Regions from separate parts of the Homo sapiens genome. Here region 2 is linked to region 1. The links come from fine-mapping of genetic effects on gene expression. Tissue or cell type: whole blood. Region 1 holds a variant in brackets; the other region holds the start of a gene. All regions are shown on one strand. Distances are from middle to middle.

Region 1 (8,166 bases):
TGCCTGGCTCCAGCCTGGATCCAGCCCAGTTTGTCACCCTGTGCTCAGCAGAGGCGGTCACTGGCTTTCTGAGGTGGAATGCACAGTTGAGAATTCAGGACTAGAATTGCTTCTCCCAGAGAGAAACTTGTCTCTTCTCATTTTTCCTCCCCTCTTCTTCTCTTTTTTTCATGCTCACTTCTGTGAGAGCTGAAAAGAGAAGAAAAAGCAGATGCCACGTTGATCACGTTTTAATTCTGCCCCCCCGGCCATGCTATCCCCACTTACCTTCTCTGTAGTGGAAAGTGATGGTGAGGCACAGTGCCCTGACTGGACCTCCCATCCTCTCGGCCCGCCGGCATGTGCAAGTTGGTCTGGCATTGGGTTTATTTCATTGTTGATTTGTGGAGCTTTTTGGGAATACCTGTGATGTGAATCAGCCCTGGGATTGAAAGACCCTGAAAAAACAGTCCCTTGCAGTGGGCTAGTGACGGGAGGAATTGCTCACATTTAAACAGCTGAAAAGCAGACATGTTTAAGTCACATCTGGTGGCATTCCTGTTGTCTGAATGGAGAGCAAGGTCTTTTTAAGCATCTGCCCAGATTTCAAAATGCAGGCTGCATCTTTTCTTCCTCAAACAAATGGTCAGGATCGGATATGAATGGCCTAATCGCATCGGGAGAGGTAAACAAAACTGATCTCATGGCTGGATTTCAACCTTGGTCCATCCAGGCCCAATCGATCTAAGGCATGACTTTTTTTTTTCCTCTCACCCATGACTACTTGATAATGGCCATTTCCGGGGCCAAGTTCATTTCGGCTCTTTTCCACCATCCCCCGTGTGCTGCCCTGTCTCACCACTTGAGGGCTGAGGCCCCTTCCCAATGGCTACAACAGGGTAAGGGGACCCTGTCCTTCTGTCTCCTTCATCCTATAGTTTGTCTTCACAGCTGCAAATTGCTCTCAGGCCTGCCTTCCTGGATTTGACAAAAACTATTTTCTTACTGGTACTATGGATACCACAAGTGGAGATGTAAGTAGGAAGGTGCAGGTCCACAAATAAATAGGGAGCCCAGATGGGAGAAATGTCATTAGAGAGATCACTGTCCCTAAAGGCATCTGACCACCCATGTTCCTGCCTCTTTCTGCGACCATTTTCCTCCTTCGGCTGCTCAGAAATTGTCGAGGCCAAACTCCTTTCACCCAGATTCCAGAAATACACTTATTTCCTTTGCTTTCCAAATCTTAATGGATGAAACACCTCTTTTTTTTTGTCTTCTATCTCTTGCCAGAAATATTGTTTTTTGAGAACCAGAGCTCATTTATCTCCAAGGGAGAAAGAAATTCATTCCATGTTTACCCATTAACAAATTACCACTTACATGAAAATACTGGGACTTCTCTCATTCTTTGCTAATAAATGGGTTATTCACCTTGGTTGAACCATGGCAGAGGCAGATGGATAGCCACTATTCCCTTCAAGTTGGCTTAATATTCTCTCGTTGGCTTTTGTCTCCTTGAAGCACAGAGATTTCTCAGAGCTTTCTTTGCTTGATTCTGCTTTTAAGGAACGTGCCCAACTTATTTGAGTCTGTTTGTTTAGTAAGCTGAATTGATTAAATCCCTGGCATTTATGGAGGAGCCTACTGTGTTGGGTGCTATGGGTTCCTCCCCACTTGAAAGTTGAATTGGAGTCACCCATCTGAATACTAACTCCCTCCTAATCCATTGGTTTTCCTGCTGTGTAGACAGGGGTATGAAGTAGCCATTTACCAAGAGATAGTGCGATGTCATAAACCGAACATGAGTTCTAAAGTTAGCAAGACCTGGTTTGTACAGTAGTGCAGGCTTGGGCACGTTGCTGCTCTCTTTTGAGTCACACATTCCTCATTATAGATGCTGATGGGAACAACAGAGCTGTCTGTTCATCTTTGCTCTTCTCCATAATGAGATAAAGCCAAACAGACAGTGAAGAGCCTGGTCTAACCACATAACGTTGGTGCAAATTATATATGGTCATAAGAAGGTAATTTTTACCTGAGCATTTAGGTGGCATTTGGTGTGGTATTTGATGCATGTCATTTAGTTACAGAGATAAAACCTCCTGAACACACATAAAGCTCTTGGCCTGGTTGAACATTACATCTCACAGATTTTTATGTTTTTTACTAAGGATACTTCCTGCTAGGAAGTTGTAAAAGAGAAGATGGAAGTCTTTTTAATGGTATTGTAGCAATATCAGTTTCCTAGCTTTGATACTGTACTATGGTGATGTAAGATGTCCCCATTAGGGGAAGTGGGGTGAAGAGTACAGGGGACCTCTGTACTATTTTTGCAATTTCCTGAGAGACAGAGGGAAAGAGAGAAAGAGAGAGAGAGAGGAGGGAATGAGTGGAGTGACATGAAAAAGGAGTGTTCATCTTGGCTTATGTCCCTGGCTGGACAAATATTTACATTTTGTTTGCCTCTTTGTATAGATTTTGTGAATAGTCATGGTTAAAAGCTAGCATTCCCTTTTCTGTGGAAGAGAAGAAAGATAATAGAATGAGCTGAGAATCCCTGCCAACATTATATTAGAAAGCCACCTACTTCCTGCCTCTCCTCACCCTCCTTACCTATACAAACTTACCTTCTGCATCTTTGTCCTCCTTCTTTCCCATTCAAAGGGGAGATGCGTCTCCTGCTGAACAAATGAACTCCTCCGCATGACCAAGGTGTCCCATCCCTCCCTGCTGTCTCCAAAGGTTCAGTCCTGCTACATAATCTCTCTAGGTGAATTCCTTCTTACTCAGGGTTTTCACAATCATCTATATTGGAATAGCACCCAAATTAATAGCTCTACCCAGACTTTTTTATTGAGTTCTATACCTGCATAGCCAATCCTTGACTGGGAGTCTCTACATAGATCATTCACAAGCATTTCAAACACCCCTTTAATTATCTCCTCTTTCTGTATTCCCTTATCTCAGAAAATGCTACCAACATCTACCCTAATGCCCCCAGCAGGAACTCAAGAGTCGTTCTAGACCTATGCTGTCCCAAGTACTTCAATGTGGCTTGTCCAAATTGAAATGTGCTGTAAGTGTAAAATACACACCAGATTTCAAAGACTTAGTTTGGAAAAAATAATGCAAAGTATCTCAATAATATTTTATATTGATTTCAAATTGAAATGATAATATTTTGGACATATTGGGTTAAATAAGTTATTAAAAATAATTTTCTTTTACTTTTTAAAGTGCCACCAAAATATTTAAAATGGCATAATGGCTGGCATTTGTGACTTGCATTCTATTTCTATTGGATAACACCATTCTAGACTCTTTTCTGTCTTTTAGCCCCCTTCCAACTGGTCATAATTCACAGTGATTCCCTTGAGTTAAGACAAGGGAGAATACTGTTTAAGTGCACAGGCTGAGTTTGAATCCTGGCTCCACCATTTTTTGATACATATGAACTTGGGTGATTATTTAACCCCTTTGAGCTTCACTTTCCTCATCTGTCAGCTGGATACAATAGCAGTTCTTATTTTGAGATTCTTGCATGCTTTAAATGAGATAATGTGTAAAGTACTTACTATGGAGATAAAAACATGTGGAAAGACCCAGTGTCAAAAGAAAGAGCATGATCTGTCACTGTTGTAGTTCAGGCCCTCATCATTACTAGCCAAGACTACTGCGATGCTTTCTCCATCTTCGGTTCACCCTGCCCTCCATTCCTTCATACTGCCATCTGATTAAACATTCCTGAATGCAAATGTTTTCAAATGTCCAATGACTTCCCATCATCCTTGGTATGAAGTCCTAAGTCCCTGGCATGCTTTCAATGTCCTCCATGATCTGCCCCCAGTCCAATCACTGATCCCATCTCCTGCCAGTCCATGATTGAACCAGTTGGGTCCCCAACTCCTATTTGCACACACCATTCTCTCTGTGTGTCATATATGAGCTCTCTACTCTGCCTAGCTACTTGTCTGCAAGACTCAGTTCAATTGTCACCTCATTTGGGAAGCTTCCACTAATCCCTCCTGCACCTGTCTCCGTCCTAGGCTAGATTAGGAGCCTGCCCTTTGGGTTCCTGAACCACTTGAGGTGTGGTTCCTTTATCATGCTGATCTCACTGGTTTGGCTGACTTGTTTTTCCTACAAGACTGAACTGTCTGAGGTCTTAAGATGGGCTGTCTAGTCCACACTGGATCTTCATGCTCTACACAGGGCTTGACACAGAGTGGGGCACAGGAAATGTTTGTTGAACGAATACACAAAGCATATGGATACTCCTGAGAGAGAGAAGGTGG[G/A]CAAGACAGCCTTGTGAAGTTAAGCAGCAGAAAATCTGAAAACGAACCTGGATAGAAATCACCAATTCCTGGAAGTACAGAGAGAGGAAGGAGAGAGAAGAATCTGTGCAAGGAGTCAGTAATGGAGGACTTGAAATGAAAGGCTATTAAAGAGAGAAGATCATTCAAACAACAGAACCACATTTGGTACTGTTGGTGGTTTTGTAACTTCCTCTGAAATGGTTCCAGGAAGAGACAAGGTTCTAGGATGGTGCAAATCATATAAAGAAAGGATGGGGTATTATAAGCCAATTCAAGGATTATTTGTCATCAGGACTAGATACATGGGTGGTACAAGTAAATGTCAACCTGATGACTACACGATGGGACTAGTAATAATTTACTGGGGCTGGTGCCCAGGAAATTTTTTGCTGTGGTGCAGATGCCAAGCATGGAAAAATTTGACGAGTTATAGGCATGAGAAAGTAGATGGCGAATTTGAGAGTAACAATGTAAAATGCCAGAGTAATCACAAGAGAAATGTCTGAATATGTAAGAGAGTTTAGAAGATTTCTGCTTTACCACAAATACGGACTTCAAGAAAAATTCCCTTATAAGAACAGAAATTCCAATATATAAAACTTATTTATCAAAACACACAGTATTCCATAATATATAATGGTAAAAGCATGCCTTTTGACCCACACAATATTAAAAGCAGCAAATAACACAAGAAAGGTAGAGAAAACAGAAGGTACAACATTTTGTGGCTCACAGGATATATGAGTGAGATTATATACTTCTATTCCAAACCACAACCTTCACTAGAACATCTAAAGGCTTCATTCTAGAACCTTCATACTGCTTATCCCAAAGGCTAGCCCACTCCCCGGTTTTCATGTAAGAAATCTTGTGGGACAGGCGTTGCATGAGGTGAGGGGCAGCAGGGAAATTCGAGATGAAAGGGTGAAAAGATCAAACGAGTCCTTGCTATTCTTCTTAACAATGCTTCAGTCCACCACTTTGAGATTTCTGTGGAGAAAGTAAAGATTTGGGATATACATATACTAAAACAACTATTGGTTGCTTATCTGAAAATTAACTTTAGCTGGGCATTCTGTATTTTATCTGACAACCCTACTTGGTGAGGTGTACATTTTCTTATTCATACTTCCTGCGAGCCACAACATGTCTTAATAGTTGTTAGCTATTAAGGACTATGCATAAAAGTGACAATAGCTGGCTGGGCACAGTGGCTCATGCCTTTAATCCCAGCACTTTGGGAGGCTGAGGCAGGAGGATCACTTGAGGCCAGGAGTTCAAGATCAGCCTGAGCAACATAGGGAGACCCCTGTCTCTACAAAAAAAAAAAAAAAAAAAAAAAGCTGGATGTGGTGGCATGCACCTGTAGTCCCAGCTATTTGGGAGGCTGAGACAGGAGAATCACTTGAACCTGGGAGTTGGAGGCTGCAGTGAGCCCTGATTGCCTCACTGCACTCCAGCCTGGGCCACAGAATGATACCTGTCTCAAAAAAAAAAAAAAAAAGTAGCAATAGCTAACAACTATTGAATTATTGAGTGCCTACTATGTGCCAGACACCATACTAAGTGGATTAGATGGATATTCCACATATTCTTCCCAAGAACATTATGAGGCAGGCACTATTATCATCCCTGTTTTTAAAATGAGGAAACTGAGGCTCAGAGATGTTAAATAACTTGCTAAGGGTCACTCAGAAAACTAGTAGTAGAGAAGGGTTTGAATGCTGGCAGCCTGACTCCAAGGCTCATGTGCTTGCCTACCTTACCCAGATGGCGGCAGCACTGAGCAAGGGGTAGATAACTTCAAGTCCCCTGGAAGAATAAGAGAAAGTGAGACCATGGGGTATGAGGGGGGCAGGCCCTGAGTAAAGCTTTAAAGGAGCAGTTGAAATTAGACCCGGTGCCTTTGTTTAAGTAAGAAGAATGTGCTAGTTCTAAACAGATGCAGCCCCATACTGGGACTCACAGCTTGATGAGAAGCGCACTGGATGCATTTCAGCCCTTACTGCAACCTCAGCCTGAGGCCTTTATGCAGTGAGCAACCTGCACAACCATACATAGCAATGTGAGTTTGATGGGAGAAGGAAGACCAGTGCAGAGACAAGGATGTCGATGGAGTGCTTAGAGAACAAAGGGAAGCTATTTACTAAAGCATGTTTGCATGGTGCAGGTGATTTTCTAAAGTTAATTTTGACAGACAGGATGGGGAAAGATTGTTGAAGGCCTGAAATGACAAGAGAGACTTGAGTGGATCTGGGAGGTCATGTGACAAACATGACATTAACAAATTCTAAATGGAAAAAATGACCCTCAGAAAGTTGTGTGTCAAGGCCGGGTATGGTGGCTCACGTCTGTAATTCCAGCACTTTCGGAGGCCAAGGCAGGTGGATCATTAGAGGTCAGGAATTCAAGATGAGCCTGGCCAACATGGTGAAACTCCATCTCTAGTAAAAATACAAAAATTAGCCAGGCGTGGTGGCGGGCACCTGTAATCCCAGCTCCTCAGGAGGCTGAGGCAGGAGAATCTCTTGAGCCTGGGAGGCGAATGTTTCAGTGAGCCAAGATTGCGCCACTGCACTCCAACCTGAGCAACAGAGCGAGACCCTGTCTCGAAAAAAAAAAAAAGAAAAGAAAGAAAGTTGTGTGTCAAAAGCTTCAACACACAGGGGCCTTTGCTCTGTCAAGCAAGGAGAATAGGGTGGAGGAGGAACAGGAACACAGTAGCTAAGGTGACAGCTGCCTCACAAAAGGAAAGTCTATGGCTTGCAAAAGAGGTCGAGGAAAGCGGAAAAGCAATTGCCGAAGAGGGACAGTAAGTGAAAAGATGAGTTTCTTCCACTTGGCATCTCCCCAAATATGGCCCTGAAGGAAGAGTTGACCCTGTTACGGTTTCTTTCTTTTTCCTGTGGGGTTATTAGAGTGACATATAAGAAAAGGGCCACAGGCACGGCACAGCTTGATTTCAGCCAGGCTTTGCATGACACCCTACAGAGCAGAATGAGGACAGATAGGCTGAAGGATAACTACTTAACTGGGTAGGTTTCAAGTTGATACTCAGAGTGTTGATTAAAGGGTGGTCAATGACAACCTGGAGGAGGTCTTTAGGTAAAGAAACTGAGTTCAAAGATAACCAACTTGCATGAATGAAGGAGCCAGGATTTGAACCCAGCCCTACCTGATTCAAAAGTCCATTTTCCATTTATTATAAAACAAAAACCAAAAAGGCATGAAGTTCACTTATGAAAGAAGAGTTGAAAGATATAACCAGAGGGTTAGGAGTACAAATCCATGCCCGAATGAATTGTGATAGGCTGAGAAATTGGCCAAAGGGGGAGAACAAAAACACAGTGAAAGTCAGAAAGGTTAAATGTGAAGCCCTGCATTTTGGTTTCAAGAAACCCGTTGCAGAGGTGGAGAGGTCCAGCTTGACCATCTTCATGTTGGGAAGCACCCGGGCTTTTGTTGTAGTTATTGTTGCTTAATTCCCAAACAGCAGCGGGGTGTGGGGGCACACGATTGTAGCCCCAGCTACTCGGGAAGCTGAGGCAGGAGGATGCCTAAAGCCCCGGAGGTCAAGGCTACAGTGACCCATGATCACGCCACTGCACTCCAGCCTGGGCAACAGAACAAGACCCTATCTAAAAAAAAACAAAAGAAAACAAAAAACCAGCCAACAGTGTAACACAATTACAAAATCTTCATGTACAAATGAAGTGATTAAATCATCCTATTCTACTCAGCCCAGCTCAGACCATATCTTGAATACTGGGTTCAAGTCTAGATAATGTATTTTGTATTTTGAGAAAAATATTGAATAACTGACAGGAGACCTGAGGAAAATGACCAGGAGATCAAGAGTTGGAACCTT
Region 2 (8,166 bases), 30 kb after region 1:
TTATTTGTTTTGAGACAGAACCTTGCTCTGTTGCCCAGGCTGGAGTGCAGTGGCATGATCTCGGCTCATTGCAATTCTCCTGCCTCAGCCTCCCTAGTAGCTGGGATTACAGGTGCATGCCACCACACCCAGCTAACTTTTGTATTTTTAGTAGAGATGGGGTTTCACCATGATGGACAGGCTGGTCTCAAACTCTTGACCTCAGGTGATCCACCCGCCTCGGCCTCCCAAAGTGCTGGGATTACAGGTGTGAGCCACTGCACCCGGCCTATTTTAAGTTTTTATAAAATGAGTTTGTAAACTCAAATTATCTATAGTGATTTCAATCACGGCGTTCCCCAGAATTCCAAAGGGGACGCTATTGGCCACCCCACTTCGGGAGCTGCTCTCCTAAGCGCTTCTCTGTGACCTCCTAATCCTAACCATCCTCACCAGGCTCTCACCCTTCACTCAGTGGGTGGACAGACACTCCCTGCCTTCAGTAAAGCATGCTCACCCCAATGAGAGAAGTCAGCGGGGGGAAGGGGAAATTCTCTTCCTAAAGAGGAAATGAAAAATTGAGATTGGGCTTCGTTTGTCTCAAGAATTGACCACAAGGGTTAGATAGAAATCTAATCTTGCCTCAGAACCAGGGTCTAGCTCAAAGAGCAAAAGCTTGTTAGAAAACCACAGTAGTATTGGTGACTCCAGCAAGGTGCAAGAGCACCAGTCTTGGTAAACCTGAACTGACCACCAAACCAAGAGAATGACCACTGACCTTGACGGAACCCTTGATGCTGCCCAGGAATCTGCTAGGTGACCTCTGCATACCCCACGTGCTCCTCAAACCTTCAGCCCCTCCGTGCATCACTCTTAGCCCGTGACCTTGATTCCAGGTTCTCTGGAACAATGAAAGCCACCAGAAGTGAAGCTCCCAGACCCCCCTCCCCCACCGCATCCACCTGCCTCCTGCAAGTGTGCTCAAACAGTCGGCCTTTCCTGCAGCTGGCTGGAAGGAACTGTCACTGCTTCTAGCAGAAATTCTCCTCTCTCTCTCTTCCACGTCAACCTCCTTTCCCTCTCTGCTGGATCATTCCTGTCAGCAAACACACACGCTGCAATTTCTCCCAACTTACCAAAACACAAACAAACAAAACCAAACCCAGAGGCCAGGTGGGTTTTGTTGTGGCTGATGCCTGTAATCCCAGTCCTTTGAGAGGCTGAGGGAGGAGGATCACTTGTGGCTAGGAGTTTGAGACCAGCCTGGGCAACATAGCGAGCCCCATCTCTACAAAAAATTTTTAAAAATTAGCTGGTCGTGGTGGCATGCGCCTATAGTCCCAGCTGCTTGGGAGGCTGAGGCAGGAGGATCGCTTGAGCCTGGGAGTTCAAGGCTGTGGTGGACCATGATTATATCACTGCACTCCAGCCTGGGCAGCAGAGAGAGACTCTGTTTCAAAGAAAAAAAAAATTTAAATAAATAAATAAATCAAGAAAATTCTTAATCCCAAATCCCCTTCCACTTGCCACTCCATCTCTTCAAAAGGAGTGTGTGCATTTGCTACTTCCAACTCCTCATCTCCCGACCCTTCCCACCAGGCTCCCCATGGGCTGTAGCTCCCAGGGGTCATCTCAGCATGACCTGCCCTGGGGATCCCCCCTCCCACTGGAACACCTCTTTCATTTTGGCTCCAGGACGTCCTTCCTCCGGTTGTCCTCCCACTGCCCTGGCTTCTCCTCCTCAGTCTCTTGTGTTGGTTCCTCCCACTCCCCAGTCCCCTATAGGTTTAGAATGTCTCCTTTTCAGTGAGGTCTTTCTCATCACCATACCTTACATTAATCTCCCACCCACAGCGCCCCATCTCTCCTCTCAGTTTTCATGTTCTCCACAGCACTTACCATCATCTGGCACGCTTCAGATCTTAATTATTTTGTTCTTTTGTGTGTGTCCCCCTCGACTAGAATGTAAGCTCCCTGAGGGCAGGGGTGTGTGTCTGTTCTGCCCACTACTGTGTCCCCAGTGCCCAGGAGGGGCCCAGCACAGTACTAGATGTTCAGTAAAGCTGTTGAATGAATGAATGAATGAATGAACGAACGAATATGTATTATTGAAACCATGACCACTCATGTCTAATATGCAATGTGTGGTGATTTTTACAAATCTTTAAAGAAGCCCCCTATCAGATTGCAGTCAGAGGACAAATGTGTATTTCCTAAATCCCCTTCACTTCTGAAATGTTTCCTTTGCGATATGGCTGCTGTGGTGCATACTCCATTCCTCTTCCCATCCCCATTACATTTCCCACACGTGGCAGTGGTGTGTGTGGTGGCCTCTTGTTTAGCCCTGTAGAATTGTGTGGCAAATACTCAGGCAGAATCTCCAGGCCACCAGAAACTGCTGCTTTCAGCCCTCTCAGAGCACAGCCAAACTTCCCCCTCAGTCCCAGTGGGGGACTCAGTCTCCAGTAAGTACATCCTTCCTGCTACCTATGTCTCAGTTTCCCAAATTCTAGAAAGCACAGAGAATTGCTCACAAAGGAATCCAAAGCCAAGGCCTGACGGGCTTTTATCTTAAAGGAACATGCGTATGAGCCTTCTGGTGACAGCAATTAGAGCAGCCACCTTGAAGCAATGTGACACAGTCCCACCTTTGGCCGCTGAGTGATTGCAGACACTCATTTTGCTTGTCTGTGGTGGAGAGAGGTCTCTGGCCTCCTGCTTTGAGGCTGCAGCCACAGCTTGCCTGGCCCTGTGTAAGTGTTTGACCTATTTCATACATGCCACGCTGTATGCAGCTGTACCTCCAGGGGCTGCCACCCTGACCATTCTGCTAAAAGAGTAATTTCTCCTGTTTCTTCTTTTCCACAGTAAAGATTATTTCCCAGCCTGGATTTTTGGGGCAGGCCCAGGATCTGGTTGTATAGACGCCGCTCTCTGGCGGCTGCCAGCCTCGCTGATTTCCAAGCATGTACACTGGACTCCCTAGGAACACTGCAGCCTCTGCTAGGCACACTGAGCAAAGCCCCCTTGTGCTCCATGCCAGCCTAGGTAACGTGACGCCCTGGGCTGTAACTTTCCTTTAATACCCAGGGAGGAACCTCTAGGCCACTGAGACCTCAGGGCAGGCATGAGCACCCCAGGCCCTGCTCAGCCGGCTGCACCTGGTTGGCTCCAGTGCCTGAAGCCTTCCCTTCCCTCCCCAGTGCATCCTCTGTCCTCGCAGCTCTGGTCTATCTCTTCCGCAGCTGCCGGCAGGCGGCTGCTTCCTGCAGTGAGTCACTCCCACACTGCCCCATTTTGGTGCAGCGACACATTTCCATGATTCGTTTCCCAGGCTGGAGAGAGACTTCTCCTGGAGAGAAGGAACAAAGAGGGTGAATCAAGGGGAATGCTCCCTCGCCTTTCCTGAAAGCTGCCTGGAGCACTGGTTTGATTTCAAACAGCACCTGGTCTCTCTCTGCTCCCTACTGTACAGAGTCCCCAGCCTCTTTCCCTCTGGGTCACCTCTTCTCCACGTCTCCCTCTTGTCACTCCTGTGTCTCATCCTGATCCTTTTGTTTGATCTCGCCCCCACAGATGGTTTCACGAAGGCCTCTCTCGACACCAGGCAGAGAACTTACTCATGGGCAAGGAGGTTGGCTTCTTCATCATCCGGGCCAGCCAGAGCTCCCCAGGGGACTTCTCCATCTCTGTCAGGTACTGACCATTCCTGACACTGCCTTGGCCCTTCTCGGCCTGTTAACCTCACAGAATGCTGAAGCCATGAAGGGACCTCTGGAATATGACCCAATGGTCAGAAGCATGGTGGCCTAGGGGCCAAGCATGGCAGCAGCTTCACAACCTGCTGCTCCCAGTGCCTTCCCAAAACATGCACACACCACTCTTTAGAACACTGGTGTGTGTTTGAAATTATTTCTACGCCCATCTGCCTCCCCTTCTAGCCCAGGTGCTTCTGGAAGGGCAGGATTTTCCTCTACTTCATCTTTATGCCTTTAACAGTGTCTTGCATAAAAGAGAGACACTCAGTGAGTATTTGTGGAAGGAAGGAGGGATAGGAGGAGGAGAACTCCCACTTGTCCAGATCCATCTGGGGGTTTAAATCTTAACCTTTTCTTTTATGATTGATGCATATCTGAAGAAGAGTCAGAGAAAAATAGAAATCTCAAGTCACTGCTGTAGGATATACAGGGGCGGAAAAGTTGTGGCACCTTTCTTTGCCCATCAGAGGAGTCACAGCTGACACTCCTACAAGACAGGTTAACAAGAGGAGAGTGGACACATTTATTTAATCAAAGACTTGTGTGACACAGAAGCCTTCAGAAATGAAGACCCAAGACCCAGGGAAAGCCGTCTATTTTTATGCTTAGGTTTGTCAAAGGACAGACAGCCCTGTAGAAATGGGATTGGACAAAGGGGGTTTGATCTAAGGTAACAGACTGAGGTAGGAAACTGAACAAGGCCTGTCCCAAGTCTTCTTTTTTTTTTTTTTTTTTGGAGACAGCTGTTGCCCAGGCTGGAGTGCAGTGACGCAATCATTGCTCACCACAGCCTCTGTGTCCCAGGCTCAAGCCATCTTCCCACCTCAGCCTCTCAAGTAGCTGGGGATACAGGTGCACACCACCACACCTGGCTAATATTTTTTTAACTTATTTCTTTGTAGAGACTAGGTCTTACTGTGTTGCCTGGGCTGATCTCAAACTCCTGGCCTCGAGTAATCCTCCTGCCTTGGCCTCCCCCATAGTGACCCTTCTAGTCTCTCTGACCCACTGTGGGGAAGAGGAATTCTAATTTCTATGACTCACTCAGGGGGAGAAAGAGGAGCGGGAGACAGGAGGGCAGGAGAAGGCCAAAGGAAGACTTTGCTTCCAAGGCTGCTTCTGAAACCTTCCCATCTCCTTTGGTTCGAAGCACTCAGCATGCCAAGGGGTGTCGTTTTCTGAGCCCCAACAAATACATGTATAGTTGTAGGCAGCTGAACAAAAAGAAAGGCTACTTCAACACAGTACAGTACAGCAAGACCGAAAACCACAGAACAGAGGGCCAGGAGTGGGGGAGGACTGTAACAGCGAAATCTCACTAAGGTGCAGCAACCCATAGGAAGTGACTCAGTCCACGCGTAGACATTACACAGCCCCAAACTCAGAAGCCCAGTTCGGAACACACTGTGTGTGGTCAGCATGTTGAGGATCGCAAGTCACGTATCAGACTTCACCACATGTGAAACTGCAAGAATATAATGCTGTTAGCAGATCAGGAGAAGTACAGCAAAACCTTACTGTCAAGTTATTGGCAGGAAATACCGATCTGGTTTATTCAATATATTTTGAAAGGCATAAAGCTTTGTTTTAAGGACAGAAATCCAATCTCAAGTAATAAACTGTGGCCACTTTGCTGTTTAGAAAGAATGGATATTTGAAAGGATAGGTAGGAAGGACTTAAAAATAACAGGTCAACAATTTGTATGCATACATACCTTTAAAGTGGTCTCTTTAGCATTGCCCTTGCAATCTTGCTTAAACTCTTTTCTTCAGTAAAAACTTTATTTTCATAGCTTGGAGAATGGTTAACTTTAGTTCAGGCCAATATTGATGTATCACAAATTCTAATCTTGTTAGGTCTTAATTAATGAAATTTCGCTCCATTAACATATATTACAAGTCAGGGTCGGGCGCCGTGGCTCATGCCTCTAATCCCAGCACTTTGGGAGGCTGAGTTGGGAGGAATGCTTTAAGCCAAGGAGTTGGAGACCAGCCGGGGCAACTAGTGAGACCTCATCTCTACTAAAAATAAAAAATTAACCCAGTGCAGTGGCGCATGCCTGTGGTCCCAACTACTTGGGAGGCTGAAGTTAAAGGATTGTTGGAGCTGGGCGGTTGAGGTTGCAGTGAGCCAAGATCGATCGCACCACTGCACTCTAGCCTGGGTGACAGAGCAAGACCCTGTCTCAAGAGAAAAAAATTATTTACATATATTATATACATATATTATTAGAAAAAACAATTATACATATATTTAACATGCGTGTATATATATTACAAGTCAAATCTATTTCTTAAGCCTCCCCTCTTTACCCCATCATAAACTTGACCAAGTAATTTGTTAGACTGAGGGGTATCTCTTGGGCCTTTGGTTTGCATGAAGATGACTCTGGCTTTTTCAGCTAGAAACTATGGTTTTTGTGGTTTCGTTGGTTTTTTGAGACAGACTCTCGCTCTGTCGCCCAGGCTGGAGTGCAGTGGCGCAATCTCGGCTCCCTGCAACCTCCGCCTCCCAGGTTCAAAGCAATTCTCGTGCCTTGGCCTCCTGAGTAGCTGGGACCATGGGTTCGCACCACCACGCCTGGCTAATTTGTGTGTGTGTGGTTTTTTTCAGTAGAGACGGGGTTTCGTCATGTTGGCCAGGCTGGTCTTGAACTCCTGGCCTCATGTAATCCACCCGCCTCAGCCTCCCAAAGTGCTAGGATTACAGGCGCGACCCACTGTGCCCGGACCCAGAACTATGGTTTATATTTCCTTAATTAAAGTGAGTTCTACAAAACAGTAGGCCTTGACTTCTACCGAAGTCTTCCCCTGATATTCAGGCGATGAAGCTTCTAGTTATGGTGACAATTACCGTAATCCTTATCACGTCTTTGCAGAAATGTAGTATAATATTTTCCAAAGCAAAATCATTATTAATTATTTTTACATCTGTCATGGGCACAGATAATTAAGAGCTAATTGTAGTTCTATCACTCAGCATTTGTTAAGGGCCTGAAACACCAGATTTTGGAGTCCAGCGCCCTGAGTCGCATCCTTTCCTTTGTTCCTCTTCAGGCTTGAGACAATGGTCAGGCCATCCTCTCCTTGTAGACCCAGATAACCAGCTGCAACCCTCACACCCATCCTTACAGCTTATGAGAGTAAAAGGGTCAATGTTTCACACTCTGAGTTCTTTGAGGTGGTGGATGAAAAATTATAATATCACAAGAATATTTTCTCCTCCTCACCTGGATGTGAAGGATAATGACTTTGAGTTGATCCATGTTGTCTTAGAATGAAGAAAGTATCTGTTGGTGGCCAAAACCAAGGGGAAGACCACAAAGTGATTGCAATATGTTGATTACCACCCGAAATCAGTCAAGCAAGAGGCCACTTGTACAACCTGTGGCTTCACCCAGCTATGAGCAAATCCCAGCACATAAGATGAGATTGAGGGTCAGAATTTCCATCTCCTTCTTAACACAGGTCCCTAAATCCATCCCTAAGAAACCTCCATGGTCAGGCGCAGTGGCTCACGCCTGTAATCCCAGCACTTTGGGAGGCTGAGGTGGGCGGATCATGAGGTCAGGAGATCGAGACCATCCTGTCTAACACGATGAAACCCCGTCTCTACTAAAAATACAAAACTTAGCCGGGCGTGGTGGCGGGCGCCTGTAGTCCCAGCTACTTGGGAGGCTGAGGCAGGAGAATGGCATGAACCTGGGAGGTGGTGCTTGCAGTGAGCAGAGATCACGCCACTGCACTCCAGCCTGGGCGACAGAGCGAGACTCTGACTCAAAAAGAAACCTCCACTTACTCTCAGAGGTATCTTTACTCTCCGAGACCCTTTAAAATTCTTGACCTTTCTTTTACATCAGGCAATTGGCATCACTAGTGCCAGTTTATTTTTAGATATAAATGTATGTCTGTTTGAAAAATAAACTTTACATCCAAAAGAGAATGACTTGGCAATGAAGTAAAACTGGATCTAATGGTAAAGGCTCAGCCCACCCTTCCTAGATGGATAAAATCCATTTTCTCTAGCCCTGGTTCGAATGTGTCCCATCACTTGTGAGTCCAGACTGGCAACAAAAGGTGCTGATCTAAAAGAAGTTATCGTCCAGTGGCAGGGTCTGGGGAAGGGGCGGCAGGCGCCATGTCCAGCCACGAAGGTGGCAAGAAGAAGGCACTGAAACAGCCCAAGAAGCAGGCCAAGGAGATGGACGAGGAAGAGAAGGCTTTCAAGCAGAAACAAAAAGAGGAGCAGAAGAAACTCGAGGTGCTAAAAGCGAAGGTCGTGGGGAAGGGGCCTCTGGCCACAGGTGGAATTAAGAAATCTGGCAAAAAATAAGCTGTTCCTTGTGCCTAAGGAGACGGTGACCCTTTATTTCATCCGTATTTAAACCTCTCTATTCCCTCCTATAATATCTTTTGCCACCTATAGTTG

Evidence for each region. PIP is the estimated chance that this variant, and not a neighbour inherited with it, causes the effect.
Region 2: it holds the start of TMA7B, and the variant in region 1 is the best candidate, but not a certain one, in a credible set for the expression of TMA7B in whole blood (TOPMed, PIP 0.76).

The regions. Positions count from the first base shown.
Region 1 is chr22:39,926,932-39,935,097 of GRCh38, forward strand. The region is part of intron 1 of GRAP2 (GRB2 related adaptor protein 2); the gene reads left to right. Among named protein-coding and RNA genes, the nearest start is that of TMA7B, 29 kb to the right of the region's middle. RefSeq lists an enhancer at 5,981-6,645. The variant G/A (reference allele first, on the strand shown) is at 4,278.
Region 2 is chr22:39,956,500-39,964,665 of GRCh38, forward strand. It overlaps TMA7B (translation machinery associated 7 homolog B), which reads left to right and starts at 3,898. Exons shown (of 2, transcript NM_001396013.1): 1 at 3,898-4,420; 2 at 7,421-8,166. The coding sequence starts at 7,876. The coding sequence ends at 8,070. GRAP2 (GRB2 related adaptor protein 2) reads left to right here. Exons shown (of 8, transcript NM_004810.4): 4 at 3,556-3,675. RefSeq lists enhancers at 692-751, 2,544-3,045.